2 separate regions of the Homo sapiens genome follow, and region 2 is linked to region 1. A link means that fine-mapping ties the variant in region 1 to the expression of a gene that starts in the linked region. Tissue or cell type: whole blood. Region 1 holds a variant in brackets; the other region holds the start of a gene. All regions are shown on one strand. Distances are between the middles of the regions.

What was found. PIP is the estimated chance that this variant, and not a neighbour inherited with it, causes the effect.
Region 2: it holds the start of COX16, and the variant in region 1 is fine-mapped to the expression of COX16 in whole blood (INTERVAL, PIP above 0.99). The same link has a PIP of 0.9 or more in lung and tibial artery.

What each region holds. Positions count from the first base shown.
Region 1 is chr14:70,322,906-70,331,105 of GRCh38, reverse strand. SYNJ2BP-COX16 (SYNJ2BP-COX16 readthrough) reads left to right here. Exons shown (of 5, transcript NM_001202549.2): 4 at 1,870-1,932; 5 at 4,657-6,025. The coding sequence ends at 4,773. It overlaps COX16 (cytochrome c oxidase assembly factor COX16), which reads left to right. Exons shown (of 4, transcript NM_016468.7): 3 at 1,870-1,932; 4 at 4,657-6,025. The coding sequence ends at 4,773. Among named protein-coding and RNA genes, the nearest start is that of COX16, 33 kb to the left of the region's middle. The variant T/C (reference allele first, on the strand shown) is at 4,819.
Region 2 is chr14:70,355,883-70,364,060 of GRCh38, reverse strand. It overlaps COX16 (cytochrome c oxidase assembly factor COX16), which reads left to right and starts at 4,378. Exons shown (of 4, transcript NM_016468.7): 1 at 4,378-4,542. The coding sequence starts at 4,474. All of the region lies in intron 3 of SYNJ2BP-COX16 (SYNJ2BP-COX16 readthrough), which reads left to right. It also overlaps the pseudogene RNU2-51P. RefSeq lists enhancers at 3,799-3,888, 4,349-4,658.

The sequences.
Region 1 (8,200 bases):
AACCCAGGAGGCAGAGGTTGCAGTGAGCCGAGATCGTGCCACTGCTTTCCAGCCTGGTGACAGTGAGATTTCCATCTCAAAGAAAAAAAGTTCAATACAATATATTTTATTCTTCTTTTACTTTATGATTTTTAAGAAACATTTTCCCTACTCCAAAGTATAAATATTTTTCTATGTGAATTACTATAAGTTTTGATTTTTGCCTTTCATATTTGGGTCTACATTCTATGTGGAATTGATTTTTTTCTTTTTTTGTATGTGATGTGAGGAATATATTCTCTTAATAGATAAGAAATTGTGCAATCATCAAATATTGACAATCGCATTGTTTCGTGACTGCTCTTCTGTGCCTAATTTGTCATAAATCAACTGTTCATATAAGTTTTTAAGTCTGCTTCAGGATTCTCTGTTCTGTCGCATTAGTTTGTTTGCAAATTACATTGTGATTTCCAAATTAACTTCGCCTTTCTGGAATAAATTCAACTTGATCATGGTATGCTGTCTTTTTGGTATGTTGCTGAATTCTTTTTACACTAAGAATTCTGCATTTGTGTTCATATATGAAGCTGGCCTGTTATTTTTATTTTCTTGTGAAATTTGATATCAGGGTTATGCTTACCACATAATTCATACAGAGTGTTTGTTACACTGGCATTATTTCTTCCTTGGGAGAATTCACTGGCAAAGCCATCTGACCCTGGACTTTTCTTTGTGTGAGGTTATTCATTATAGATTTAATTCTTTATAGATTGTAAAACTATTCAGGTTGTCTATTGTGCCTTTGTCAGTTTTGGAAAGTTGTATTTTTCTATTAATCTGTCCATTTTATCTAAGTTTTCAAATTAATGGCATAAAATTATTCATATTATTATACTCTTTATTGCCTATAGAATTTGTGCTGTTGACCTTTTCATCTAAATACTCTTTATTTGTGACTTCTCTTTTTTCTCTTAATCAACTTCACTTTGATTAAAAATGTTTTTGTTTTGTTGTGCTTATTTCTTATGATGTTCTTTCAGTCTGAGGACTCATTGCTATGTAGTGGTGAATTCTTTGCTATTTTTATTTAATTATTGCTCTCCCTCCCCTTTATTTTCTAATTCTGGAACTTCTAGCTATGTGTTAGAACTTTTAGGTCTAGCTTTTGTAAAATACTTTTTTTCATTCATCTCATTTTTATCTCTTCATGCATTATTCCAGTGAAATCCTCTGGTTATGCTTCTATTTTACTTATTTGATCTTTGCTTTTTTGTAGTTGTTGTTTATTGATTTCAGCCATCATACTCTTTTTCCTGAAGGCTTTGCCACATACAGAAAGGCTTTTTATACAGTTAATATAGCATTAGCTCCTTTTTACCTCTATGGATTTTTTTTTTTTTTTTTTGGTAGATATCTACTTCTGGCCCATGGAAGGTATTCCTTTTTGTTTTCAAGTGCAGCATTATATTAGTATTTTTGTTATTTCTCCATAATATAATTTAGATTGGTGGTTAATAGTGTGAACTCTGGAGGCAGAGAACTAATACTTAAAGCCAAGCTCTGCTTCTTTGACATGTTATTCAAACCCCGTGTCCCATATTCCTTACATATAATACAGATCTCATGGATTTTGTGAGGATGAAACAAGATAATATATGTCAAAATGCCTCTCACATAACAAGTAATCAGTAGATATTAACTCTTTTTAGTTGAATAATGCTGGCAGTAGTACATTAGTTATCATTATGTGATCAGAGTAGATGGTGGAGATTTTGCCATGTGTTTGTATTTGGCTATAGTATTTCAGCCATCTCTTCTATAACTTAAAATTGAAAATTGAGTCTAACAAACAGACTTAGATAACTTATTACTTTTTTTCCTTTTCTACAGATGGATCCTGAGCTTGAAAAAAAACTGAAAGAGAATAAAATATCTTTAGAGTCGGAATATGAGGTACGGTATGTTAATATAGTCTCTGTCTTATAACAATCAGTTACTGGTTTTATCTGCCTTAAAAGTATTAGTAGTACAGAAAAAAATTACGTTGAATATATATGGTATTTGATAAACTATAATCATTTGAAAAGCAAATAAAAAGATGGATCCATACTTAATATACTACAAATAAATAAATTCCAGATGGATCAAGAATTTGAAAGTAAAAAACAAAATGCTGAAAGTACTAGGAGAATATAAATGGAGAATTTTGTTTGTTGTCTTGAGTCAAAAAAGCCTATTTAAATGTGATATAAAACCCAGAAGCTCTAAAAGTAAAGATCAATGGGTTCATACATACAAATTCAAAAGTTAAGAATGAAAAAAGTATATAAAGTCACAGATTACATGAGAAATCCTACAGATATAGTTTAATCTTATCATGGCACATTAATTTACTTAAATATGAAGACCATCTCCAAATCAATGTGAAAAAGTTCAACAATTCATTTGTTCAGTAAGAACATGGGAAAGCATAGCATGTAAAACTTTTGGACAAAAGGAAATAAGTATCATTCTTAAACATATGAAGAGATGCTCAATTTATCATAATAGGAATGTCAAAGTCTAACGAGGTATCACTTTTCACCCATCTAATTAGCAAAAATCAAGGAGTTTAACAGCACGCTATATTATGGGATGTGGTGAGGATGTTCTTCATGTCTTTGAGTTTGTCATTTTTTTGACTGGATTATATTTTCCTGTTTCTTTGTATATGTCTGGTCATTTTGTATTGAAAGGTAGTCATTGTGAATAATACACTGAAGAAAATTCTGAAGAGTGTTGATTTTTATTTTGACAATTTAATTGTTAGCTAATCACCTTAAACTTCATTTTGTGCTTTGTAGGGAAGTATCTGTTGAAGGGCTAGCTATCTTTCCTTGGCCCTTCTCCCTTGTTGGGACTCAATCTCCAGACTATCTCCCCAGAGAATCTTGTCAAGGCTTGGCTTTAAGCTTTGTTGGGGTGAGTCTAAAGAAAATCTTATCGCGCCACTGCACTCCAGCCTGGGTGACAGAACGAGACTCCGTCTCAAAAAAAAAAAAAAAAAAAAAAAAATCTTATTCTCAGGCATAATTTTTACTCCTGAAGAACAGTCCTTTTGGTGTCTTAGGTGGATGTCAGGGTAGCAACAAAATGTTAAAAGAAAGGTCTCCACTCTGGCAGGCCTGGAAACTCCATATTCTTGACACTGTTTTTTCTCAGCATTTCTTGACGCTGTTCCACACTCAGGCCTATACCAGTTGGCTGTGAAGTGTTATGTCTTGGGTGGTTTTTCTCAGCACATTTACATAGCCCATTCTTCAGCCACTGTGCACGTTTTGTAGAATTCTACAAGGAATCTCCTTCACCAAAGATCTGTAAAGGCTAGACTACTTTTACATGAACTTGTTATTTAAGAATTTTCTTCAGTTCTGTTAAGCATACATATCTTACGTTACCTGGATAATGGCCATTATTCTTTATTAAAATCTTTTAATAACTTTAGATCATTTCATAACTATACTTATGAAATAATCTAAATTCTTCTTGTATGCTAAATTAGTTGAATTTTGTTCCTTCATGTATATATGTAATACAGACTCCTGGTAAAACTATAAGTGAACAGTATTTTCATTTACTACTTTCCCATTGATTAAAAAAAAAAATCCTGTAACTTGCTAACTTGTAGTTCTACAAGTGCTATACCAGTAATGATGCTATGAAGAGTTTGTCTGGGAGTAGATTTTCCTTCTAGTTCTTCTAGGACCTGTAGAATTTGAGAGCTGAAGACTCTCAAATGTAGAGTATTTGGTCCAACCTTTTCATTGTTACTTATGAGAGAGTTAATGCCCAGGTGGCTTAAATTACTTTCCAAAGGTTATATAGCTAGTTAGTAAGAGAGTAATGCTTAGTATCCAAGTGTCAAGGTAAATTTATTCCATTTTCCCTGTCTCTGGATATAAGCTATCCTATGTTTTCACAGCTTTTTTTTTCCATCTTACTCAATTATTTCAGAACAACCAAAACAGCAGATATGTAAAAGTTAATGTCAGAGTGGTGGTCAGTAGGAGAAAGGTGAAGAAACATTTATTTCTTCCCTTTTATTCCAACTATTTTTGTGCTTGAGAGGTACTTCAGACTAAATGAAGGTAGGATGATCCATAATGTAGTTGCAGTTAGTTTCAGTTGCCCAAAAGTGTTTTGCTTATGATAGATAGCTGTAGGAAAGTCTTTTCATTCCTAAGCCCAGGCGTAAGACAAATGATCTTGGTCTCTTTTCTTTTTTGTAGAAGACTTTAGGGTCTCCACCCTTTGTTCTTTTCTTCTTATTTTCTACCATCATCCCTGATAACCCTTTCAGTCACTGTGCTGGATCAGCCTTCAGATTTGTACTTTTGTTTTCCCAGCTTCAGCCTTTTCCTTGTCCTCTCAAAAATAAGGCATGTAGACTCTTTCTCTATTTTAATAGTTTTACGGTTAAGGTGGCGTAAGATAGGCATTAACATCAGTAACAAATGAAAAGTTCTAAATCTTAAGATGACATTTCATCAATGATTGTAGTTGATTTATTTGCTACAGTTGTAATCGAGGACCTATCGGATACTTTCTACTCATTTATTCATTGAGTTAGTTGTGTCCTAATCAAAGCCACAGGCTCTTATACTAATATTTATACTTTAATTTTTTGTGGTTCTATAGAAAATCAAAGACTCCAAGTTTGATGACTGGAAGAATATTCGAGGACCCAGGCCTTGGGAAGATCCTGACCTCCTCCAAGGAAGAAATCCAGAAAGCCTTAAGACTAAGACAACTTGACTCTGCTGATTCTTTTTTCCTTTTTTTTTTTTTTAAATAAAAATA[T/C]TATTAACTGGACTTCCTAATATATACTTCTATCAAGTGGAAAGGAAATTCCAGGCCCATGGAAACTTGGATATGGGTAATTTGATGACAAATAATCTTCACTAAAGGTCATGTACAGGTTTTTATACTTCCCAGCTATTCCATCTGTGGATGAAAGTAACAATGTTGGCCACGTATATTTTACACCTCGAAATAAAAAATGTGAATACTGCTCCAAAAACAGAGTCACGTATTCCACTCTCCAACTACCCACATATTCCTTTTGCAATAGCCATTAGGGCATCATTTTGATATTTCATTCTGATTTCTGATTCTCTGATTTCTGATTCCTAATGAGGACAGTAGGTCTGGATCCAAATTCTCACAGTAAAATCAAGCAGTAATTTTCTCTCATATCTATTAGGGAAAGAAAAATGATCACAGTCTGCTAAGAGTCTTGATTTTCTTTGTAATGCCTCACATAGTATGATAATCAGTCTCCAAAGCATCACATGATAATTACAATGATACCATTAACATGTCAAGGAAATTATATTATTTATGGTTGTCAAAAATTATGAAGTAGTGTATGATTATAAGCAGATATGGCAAATTTGTTCAGTAAATCCATAGATGACTACATTTTGAGAAATACTAAGATAATACTAAAAATTATGCCTTAGCATAATTTGCATGCAAAATTGCCCTCTAGTGTTTTTGTTTTGTTTTGAGACATAGTCTCGCTCTGTTCGCCCAGGCTGGAGTGCAGGGGCACGATCTCTGCTCACTGCAAGCTCTGCTTCCCGGGTTCACACCATTCTCCTGCCTCAGCATCCTGAGTAGCTGGGACTACAGGCACATGCTGTCACACCCGGCTAATTTTTTGTATTTAGTAGAGATGGGGTTTCACCACGTTAGCCAGGATGGTCTCCATCTCCTGACCTTGTGATCCGCCCACCTCGGCCTCACAAATTGCTGGGATTACAGGTGTGAGCCACCACGCCTGGCCGAAAGTTAGTTGTTTTGAACTCATTTTCTCCTTTTTACCCCTGCCTTTATCAGCTTCTACCTTCTGGTTTCATGCTGAGTTCTAGTTGCCTAAAGTCTCCATTGAAACACTCCTGTTATAATTGCCATAAAATCATAAATCCACTCCCCCTTTCTCCTCCTAGTCAAAATTTGTATTCTTTTCAGCAGGTTGGTTTTAATAAAAAGTAAATTAAGTTGATTATCTAGTGATAATTTGTGATAGACATGATTCATAAGATAGTTATCTGGGGGAGCAATTGGATTTCAGAGAAAAAAAGTCTCCACTTATTATTCACTCATTAAACAAGTAACTCAAAAAAGGATCATTGATTTAAATGTAAAACATAAAAGTATAAAACTTTTAGGAAAAACCACAGGAGAAAGGCTTCAACTTACCGAATAGCTCTTACCAAAGAATATTGATAAAAGAAAAACTTGACAGATTGACACATCAATATTACAAGCTTTTGTTTGCCAAAGGCCCTGTTAAAAGGATGAAAAATATAGACAGAGAAAACACATGTAAACCACATATCTGGCAAAAGACTCATACCTAGAGTAAAGAACTCTGTAAACTCAGTTAAAAAATATCCAATTAGAAAATGGGCAAAAAACATAGAAACATTTCACTACAGAGGATACACTGATAGCAAATTAGCTCTGAAAAGAATGTTTGACATCACTATGAAGGAAATGCAATTTTAGACTACATTGACATCACTAGACATCTATTAGAATACCTAAAAAAAAAAAAAAATTAGTGACAGTATGAAATGCTGGCCAGGATGTGGAGAAATGAAATCTCACATGGTGGTGGTATCATGTAAATGGTACAACTCGTCTGGAAAATTGGCAGTTTCTTTAAAAGCATAAGGGACTTCTGGTTTCCAGTTTGATATGTAAAAAGTTTGAAAAATTTAATTCCCATCATAACAAAGAAAAAAGCTGAACAACTAAACTCTGACTTTGAGTTGAAGTCACAGGACAAACTACCACCCTGAAAACTGGAGACAAAGGCAGGTCCAGAAAATCATATTTTACCTGGAGGAGCACCTGCCCAGAAACCACCACTGGAGCCAGCATTGGGTAGGAATATCTAAAGGTAATTGAATACTTCCTGGAGGCTGATCATGGACTAATTGAGAGAAAATCTCTTGAGAGGAGGCCAAGCCTTGTGTGGATTTGAGAAGGCACACTTGTGAGTTTTACCTCTAAGAGTCCCACCTGGTTTTCATAGTGAATATCAGAAAAATCCCCTTGTGCTTCTAGCAGATGTAGGTGAGAGTAACTATTCTGAAATAAGCCCAGAGAATTCTGTTTTATTTAATGTAAGCCTGGCCCCAAAGTAAACTCTTTTGCTAGAACCTAATTGCATTGGGTTTTACCAGTGCCTAGACAACTGGAGGAAGGGGAATAACCAACTCCAGCCTCCTCCAACCTTCCTGTTTTACCTAAATGGGGGTGAGGAGAGGTGGAGGAAGACTGAAAAACACTTGTGAATGTCCAGTCTGGGGACCTAGGCTTATTAAGAAGCCTAATCACAGGACCTATAGAATGCTCCCCACTGCATGTATTACCACCACATCACTAAAGACCTATTCACTCGAGTTCATTTTACCCGGTACATCACGTCCAACAGTCAACAAAAACGAAAGACAAAAAGCACAGTTTGAAGAGAAAATGAGCATCAGAATCAGATTCAGACATGGCAGGGATGTTGCAGTGATCACACTGGGAATTTAAAATATGATTAATATGCTAAGAGCTCTGATGGAAAAAGTATACAACGTGCAAGAACAAATGGGCAATAAAAGCAAAGAAATGGAAGAATTAAAAGGAAATTCTAGCATTAAAAAACTAACAAGAGAACAGTGACTTTGATGAGGTCATCAACAGAGTGGACAGAACTGAAGAAAGGGAGAAAAGTACATATAGTATGTTAACAGTAATCAAAAAGTTTGAGTAGTTATATTAATCTCAGACAAATCAGACTTTAGAGCACTGAAAATCATGGAAGAAGAGGGGCATTACATAATAATAAAGGGGGCCCACCCTCTCCAAGAAGACATAAAATTCTTAATGTATATACACTGAACAAAGCAGCAAAATACATGAGCAAAAACTGGTAGAGCTGCAAATATGTGAGAAATATAGGAATAGACTTACAGAGACACAATCCTCTTATCAGCAACTGACAAATCAAGTAGGCAGAAAATGATTGAGGACATAGTTGAGCACCATCAATCAGCTATATCTAATTGACATCTATAGCGTACTCCACAACAACAGAATAGGCATTCTTCTCAAGTTCAAACAACATTCATCACTATGAACAACCATATAACACACCTCAACAAATTTGAAAGGATAAAAA
Region 2 (8,178 bases), 33 kb before region 1:
GGAAGTTGAGGCTGCAGTGAGCCATGTATTCTTCATCCTTCACTGTATAGCATGATATGGGAAGATCCTGCCATTTCCTTGTTTTTGTTTGTTGGTTTGTTTTATTTATTATTATTATTTTTTTAAGATAGGGTCTTGCTCTGATGCTCAGGCTGGTCTCAAACTCCTGGGTTCAAGTGATCCTCCCGCCTTGGCCTCTCAAAGTTCTGGGATTACAGATGTGAGCTACCACTCCTGGCTGCTCCTGTCATTTCATTTGTTTTTCCAGAAAATTATGCATTGTGGTTTTGTACTATGAAGGAAGTCATGGAAAACAGAAATGTATTAGGCATGGTCCTGTTTACCCCATATCTTATACTCCATAAAAAGTAATAAGGCAAATACAGCAATAATTCTAAACTTGGAATGTTCATGATCACTATCATAAGAGAAAGTGCATTAAAGAAGAAACAGTTGATTTTCTGGCTGAACAATATCAAGGACAATTTTAACTGGTTTCAAGTTGGACTGAACTAGACCAACTCTTAGCTACTCTAGTTCTAGCCATAGAAATTAGATTGAATGGAGAAAAGGATTAAAATAAACCTTGGTGGCATGTTGACCTTGAGGTGTTAGAAAATCGTTCAGGCTCCTGGAAGTGTACCAGAAGTCTTCCATGCTGTGATAAAATTTGAAGCCAATGTGAAAGTGGAGTTTACCTAGGGAAAGAGGATGGAGCAGTGGTTGTCAGAGTGTGGTCCTCAGACCAGCAGCATCACCCAGAAGCTTGTTAGAAGGGCAGATTTTCAGGCCCCATCCCTGATCTACTAAATCTGAAACTCTGGTGATGGGGCCCAGCAGTCTGTTTTAATGCTCTCCCAGGGATTCTGGTGCACACTAAAGTTTGAGAGTAACTGAGACAGAGGGAAAAAATGGGACTAAGGACTCCAGTTTAAGGTTTGTAAGTCTGAAGACAACAAAAAGAAGTCTCACCATTGGAGAGGAGCCATGGCAGTGAAACTTCCATAAAAGCCACAGGAGGAGAGAATTTCAAGGAGATAGTCAGTATTGTCCAATTCTACAGGAAATTTAGTTCTGTTTGGGATATTTGTACCCCTTCCAAAGTGAGACCTTGTGTTTGCCTCTTAACTTTTCTGAGCCTTAGTCTGTTAACCTATAAGATGAGTCTGGCATCATGTTCTGCCCCTATCATAAGGTTTTTGAGTGAATCAAATTAGATGGTAAGCCAAGCATGGTAGCACACACCTGTAGTCCCAGCTACTTAGGAGGCCAAGGCAGGAGGATTGTTTGAGCCCAGGAGTTCAAGACCAGCCTGAACAATATAGCAGAACCTGTCTCAAAAAAAAAAAACAATTAGTAGATTCAATGGCATTATCAAAGTAAACAAAGATTCATGAAGTAACTAATCTTTCGATTACCATAGCCATGAATTCTGGCCATAATTCTGCTCTGTTGCCCAGGCTGGAGTGCAGTGGCACCATCTCGGCTCATTGCAGCCTCCACCTCCCGAGTTCAAGTGATTCTCCTGCCTCAGCCTCCCGAGTAGCTGGGATTACAGTCATGCGCCTTCATGCCCGGCTAATTTTTGTAGTTTTAGTAGAGACAGGGTTTCACCATGTTGGCCAGGCTGGTCTCAAACTCCTGACCTCAGGTGATCTGCCCGCCTCGGCCTCCCAAAGTGCTGGGATTACAGGTATGAGCCACTGTGGCTGGCCAGTTCTGGCCATAATTCTAAAACCTAACTTCAGGACTAAAGCTCTCAAGAAGACTGGTGTTTTTGTTTTTGTTTTATAACAACGCTCCCATGTACTTGCATGAGTTAAATGCTGGTAGAGCAGATACTAGAGGATAATATAACCTGCCTGGATATCAAGTACATACCAGTCCTCAGGGACTGGCATAGATGGTGGAGATGCCCCATTTCCTGAATATACATTTTTTGTAACTTCTTACAGTTAAGATAGCTGAGTCAGCATTTTAACTGTTTATTAACAATGGAAACACATGGAATTTGAGTCATATTTCTGGGAAGGCAACAGATTCCATACTGGTAAGAAATTTTGTGTTCCCTTTTTGTGAGAATCGTAAACTGATGACAAATATCACTCATTCCGATTTAACAGATGGAAAAACTGAAGTATACAGTAGTGATGCTTAAGAAGGGCGCTATGCATAGCTGGTAAAATTTACCACCTATGTAGTATGATTTGATAGGTGCTTACATTCCTCAGTGTCACAGATTTTGTCCCCTGACAATCTGCCGGCATACCTGTAATTCCTACTGTTCACAGTTACTCCTTCAGGGCCATTTCAAGGTTCTCAATAAATGCTTATTTGAGTGATTGAACAAACAAGATACTAAAGACATAGAGTGCCTTAAATTGGATAGATGCCTTATCTGAAAAGTGTAAGATTATCGACTCTAGCATTATTTTGAATATATGTATACGATTTAACCCATTATTAGCTACTACTTAGGTGCCGGGTTTTGATGGAGTAGTATCCAGTAGGCTGATGTTTTATGTAGTGAAGATGTAGGAAAACGCTAGAGTTTTAGAGCAGCGCCTTTGGCTTCTAGGATCTTAGGGAAAGTAGGAGATGTGATACGCTTAACTAACCTGGATGCCACGTGAGATTTATTTATTTATTTTTGAAACAGGGTCTAGCTGTGTCACCCAGGCTGCAGTGCAGTGGCATGATCACGGCTCACTGTAGCCTGGACCTCCTGGGCTCAAGTGATCTTCCCACCTCAGCTTCCCAAGTAGCTGAGACCCCACCATGCCTGGCTAATTTATTATTATTATTATTATTTGTAAAGATGGGGTCTTGCTTTGTTGCTCAGGCTGGTCTCGAACTCCTGGGCTCAAATGATCCTCCTGCCTCAGCCTCCCAAACTGCAGGTATTACAGGCATGAGCCACCATGCCTGGTCTGCATGAATTTTGAAATATCAAAAGGAAGTAAATAAGATGGGAGAGATGCACCGTTCCTGGGTTTCTGGAGGTATTGAAATACAGGTTGATGTGTAGAGTGGTGGAGCAAACTCCTATTCCATCTCCTTGCTTCAAAAACCCATTTAACATATTTTCCTTGGATAGAGAATGTGTCAAATATTAAACTGTTAAGAACAGATACTACACTTGATCTTAGCCAAAAGGATAAGTTTCACTGGAGTAGCCTGCAGTAGATCTGGAGCTTCTCTTCTGGAGACCACTTAAGAGGCTACTTTAATAGGTGAAAAGATGATAAGGAATTAAAAAAAGGAACATTTCAGTGGTAACAGAGAGGCAGGGACAGATGGAAATATTTCAGGAATAGCATGGAAGATAATATTCCGCATCACCTGCACTCTGATTCACTCTGGTAAATGGGACACGTGGGGGATCGGCTTCCTAAGCTATCCCAGTACTTCACACATGTTTGTTTCTGTGCCCATGAAATCGCCAGTGTCTTTAAGGTAAGGATCATATATTTTTATCTGTGTTCCTAGAACCCTTTCAAAGACACGCTGAAAGGTGGCCTGTATGGTTGCTGAATCATTGGTAAATAGACATTCATAAATGACTAAAGATTACAGGTTATCTCACAGTAAAATCATTAGCATTAAAAGTTCAGTAATGACTGATGAGACACTACACTGATTACATTTCAACCTAATCTTTCAAAAGCGATTTATTTTTAAAAGTCTCCATTAAACTGGCAAATTCCTCATCCCACAAATAGCCATAAAGACTGGAGTACCAGCTTCAAAATACTTTTTTTTCTTTTTTCTTTTTGAGACGAAGTCTCGCTCTTGTTCCCCAGGCTGGAGTGCGATGGCGCGATCTCTGCTCATTGCAACCTCCGCCTCCCGGGTTCAAGCGATTCTCCTGCCTCGGCCCCCCAGTAGCTGGGATTACAGGCGCCTGCCACCACGCCCGGCTAATTTTTGTATTTTTTTTTTTTAATAGAGACGGGGTTTTACCATGTTGACCAGGCTGATCTAGAACTCCTGACCTCAGGTGATCTACCGGCCTCGGCCTCCCAAAGTGCTGGGATTACAGGCCACCCACCCAGGCCACCGCGCCCGGCCTCAAAATACTTTTTTCCTTAGCTGATTTTATCGAGTGGCTATGTGCCTAAGGGAGTGTTCTAAGCAGACGTTAGTTAGGACCCAGAACGTGGGAAGTACTGGTTTCCAGATCAATTTGGTGGTGATCGTAAACCGATTCAAATCTCTAAATCCCAATTGCACGCCGACGTTACGGAACCAAAAACGCTGACGCCCACATTTCTGGGCGGACGCACAAGTATGTTACGATGGCTCGATTGCTTTTGCCTAGCGGAAACCATTCACTAAGGACCGAGCACCAAATAACCAAGGAAAAGGAAGTGAGTTAAGGACGTACTCGTCTTGGTGAGAGCGTGAGCTGCTGAGATTTGGGAGTCTGCGCTAGGCCCGCTTGGAGTTCTGAGCCGATGGAAGAGTTCACTCATGTTTGCACCCGCGGTGATGCGTGCTTTTCGCAAGAACAAGACTCTCGGCTATGGAGTCCCCATGTTGGTGAGTGGAGTGAGGAGGATCTTCCGCAAGGGGTGGGACCCTCCTCCTTGGCAGGATCAAGACCTGGGAGGGAATCTGTAAAATGTGAAGTTAAGGGCTGGCACTCGGGCTAGGAAGGAGCTAGCGACGGGGTGAGAGCTTTCCTAAAAGCTCTTCCACCAGTCTTTTCCACACCCCCACTTCCCCGCCGCTGTCCCCCACTCCCGGTTGGATTTCAGGTGTACTAGGATCTGTCTGCTTGTGAGCGTGGCGTCTTTCCCATCGTCGAACGCGGTCATTGTTACTACCCTTGATTCACAGTTAAGTAAATTGAAGCTCAGAGAATTCAGTCAGAACCACACTTTAAGCCAAGTTTGGATGATTACTAAGCTTGCTTCCTCGCCCCCAACTTAGCTATGTTTTGACGATACTGTGGATCATTGGGACTAGATGTATTCCATTTAACTGCACGAATTCCTGGTATCTTTCTGTTTCATCTTTCTAGTTTGTGAATTAGCTTAATACTTAGAGTTGTGATGAACTAATAACACCTTGTGAATAAAGTGTTGAGTACGGTGCCTGCCACATTGTAGCCAGAATGATTGCTGTGTTATAATTTCTAAAGCACGTTGAAAACAGCTTCCGTGTTTATATGGTTTCATCCATATCCACACTGAGTTCCCTAAGGATGTCATGAAATGCAGGCTGAGGCTGGCTTAAGACAACCAGAGTTGAAATCCAGATGACTCTTATTTGCTTTTTGATTACGGGCCAGTTATTTTGCTTCAGCAAGCCTTGATGTGTTAGTAAATGAAATAATTAAAGCATATGAACAAAAGCTGCTTTTAAATACAGACTATATTTTTATTTTGTATGAATGTTGGCGCAGATGAAATTACCAGCTTTTCCATTTAAGCAGACTAAAGGAAAGAAGTGATCTTAGAAAGGTAATGGATATTTTACACAGTTTTGAAAAATCCACATTCATCAAATGTGGATTTTAGGAATCTCCAAAAGATTCACCCATTTGAAGTATCTGGGCCAAGCACGATGGCTCACACCTGTAATCCCAGTGTTAGGGGAAGCCAAGACAGGAGGATCGCTTTAGGTCAGGAGTTCCAAACCAGCAAGACCTCTGTCTCTCCAAAAAAAAAAAAAAAAAAAAAAATTGTTGTTTTTAGCAAATTCGATATTAGTATACTAATATATTCGTATATTAGTATATTCTTAGTTATGGAGCCATCACCACAATTTTAGAACATTTTCATTGCCCCCAAAAAAGCATCATAACTAATAGTAGTCACTTCCCATTTCTTCCTGCCTCTTAATGCTGGCCTGGTAAACCACTAATCTACTTCTACCCGTAAATTTGCTTATTCTGCACATTTCATATTAACACACTAATACAACGTGGGTTTTTTGTGACTGGATTCTTCCACTTAGAATGTTTTTAAGGTTCATTCACATTGTAACATATATCAATACTTCATTCCTTTTGATGGATATAATTCCATTGTTTGGATATATTTTATCAATTGATGAACATTTGGGTTGTTTCAATTTTTGACTATTATGAATAATGCTGCTATGAACATTTATGTACACGCTTTGTGTGGAAGTATGTTTTCATTTCTCTCAGGTAGGGAATATACCTAGACGTGGAATTGCTAGGTCATATGGTAACTCTTCAACTTTTTAGGATGTGCCAGATGTTTTCCAAAGTGGCTGCATCATTTTACATTCCCACCAGCAAGATATGATTTTCAATTTCTCCACATCCTTGCCAACACTTGTTATTGTCCATCTTTTGAATTATTACCCTTTCTAGTAGGTGTGAAGTGATACCTCATTGTGGTTTTGATTTTCATTTCCCTAACGACTTATTATGTTGAGCATCTTTTCAAATGTTTATTGGTCATTTGAATATCTTTTTGGAGAAATGTCTGTTCAAATCCTTTGCCCATTTTTTAATTGGACTATGTTTCCTTTTATTGGACAGAGGTTTCTTTAAAACCCAAAACCAACAAATCTGCCAGTCTTTGTCGAGAGGCTCTGCATGCTTTTTTGGGCATGCTTTCAACATTCAGCCATGCAATTTACAGCTCCATGTATAGCCTTCACTTCTTACTTGCTCAGAGCTTCAAATTAGTCATAAGTTGAGAATTTAGGGCCTTCTCAGGTCTTTCTTGGGCATATACATTGCTCTGGGCATGTACACAGTTCTAGTTATTTGCATGACTTTCTAAATTCTCAGGAATATATTTGAGCTTTTCAGAGTCCTCTAAGGACACCTTATTCCTATTATCTACCACATCAGACAGTCATAATGTTAAACAATTACCTCTGAATTTTTTTTTTTTTTTTTTTTTTTTTTTTTTTTTGACAAACGCTTCCTAGGAGAAGTCTGTTCATACTAGTTGAGCTCCATGTCAGGTAAACTACAGAGAGCTTTGTGAATAGCATCTTCCAGGAAGTACCAGACTGGTGAAATGATGACATTTCTCACAGAATGGTGTTTTAAAGAGCTCCAACCTCTCTACCCTCTTCACTTGGTGCCAGGCTTTACATCATGTTTGCAGGCTGTTGGTTTTCATGGTTGTTACGGAGCTTGGGTGGAGGGGTGAGAATATGACAAATTAAAAATGCCACCAAGCTGTTCTTCCTGAGATTCAGGCATTTTTCTTAGGTAAATACTGTGCACATTGTTGCAAGTTTTTGCTTAATTTTCAGAGTTCTAAAAAAGTTTATTTGACAATTTTTTACAAATATTCTCGTTTTTGTGGAGGAAAGGATTTTTGGAGATACTCCACCATGTCACTGATATCACCCTTTGGTTCTTCTTTATATCTTCTATGTCTTTGGCGAGATTTTCTAATTTTCCATTTGTTTCAAGAAAATCTGTTGTTGTTTGAAGTATTTTTATGATGTTTCCTTTGAGGTCTTCGTCATCTTTGTCAGATAATTCTAATCTCTGATTTATCTCTGTGTTAGCATCTCTCCATAGCCTTTTTAAAATTCAAGTTTGTCTTAGTCCATTTGTGTTGCTAGAAAGCAGGGGTCCTCAACCCCTGGGCCACGGACTGGTACTGGTTTGTGGCCTGTTAGGAACTGGGCTGCACAGTAGGAGGTGAGCAGTAGGTGAGTGGGCATTATTGCCTGAGCTCCACCTCCTGTCAGATCAGAGGTGGCATTAGATTCTCATAGGAGCACGAGTCCTATTGTGAACTGCACATGTGAGGGATCTAGGTTGCATGCTCCTTATGAGATCTAATGTCTGATGATCTAAAGTGGAACAGTTTCATCCCCAAACTGCCATCCCACCCCCCACCCCCGCCACCATCTGTGGAAAAATGGTCTGCCATGAAACTGGTCCCTGGTGCCAGAAAGTTTGGGGACCACTGTTGCTATAAAGGAATACTAGAGGCTGGGTAATTTATAAAGGAAAGAATTTTCTTTTGGCTCATGGTTCTGCAGGCTGTACATACTGTGAAGCACGGCACAGCATCTGCTTCTGGTGCGGGCCTCAAGCTGCTTCCACTTGTGGCAGAAGGCAAAAGGGAGCCAGCATGTGCAGAGATCACATGCCAAGAGAGAGGGGAGGGAGGTGGCAGGCTCTTTTTGACAACCAGCTCTCAAGGGAACTAATAGAGTGAGAAC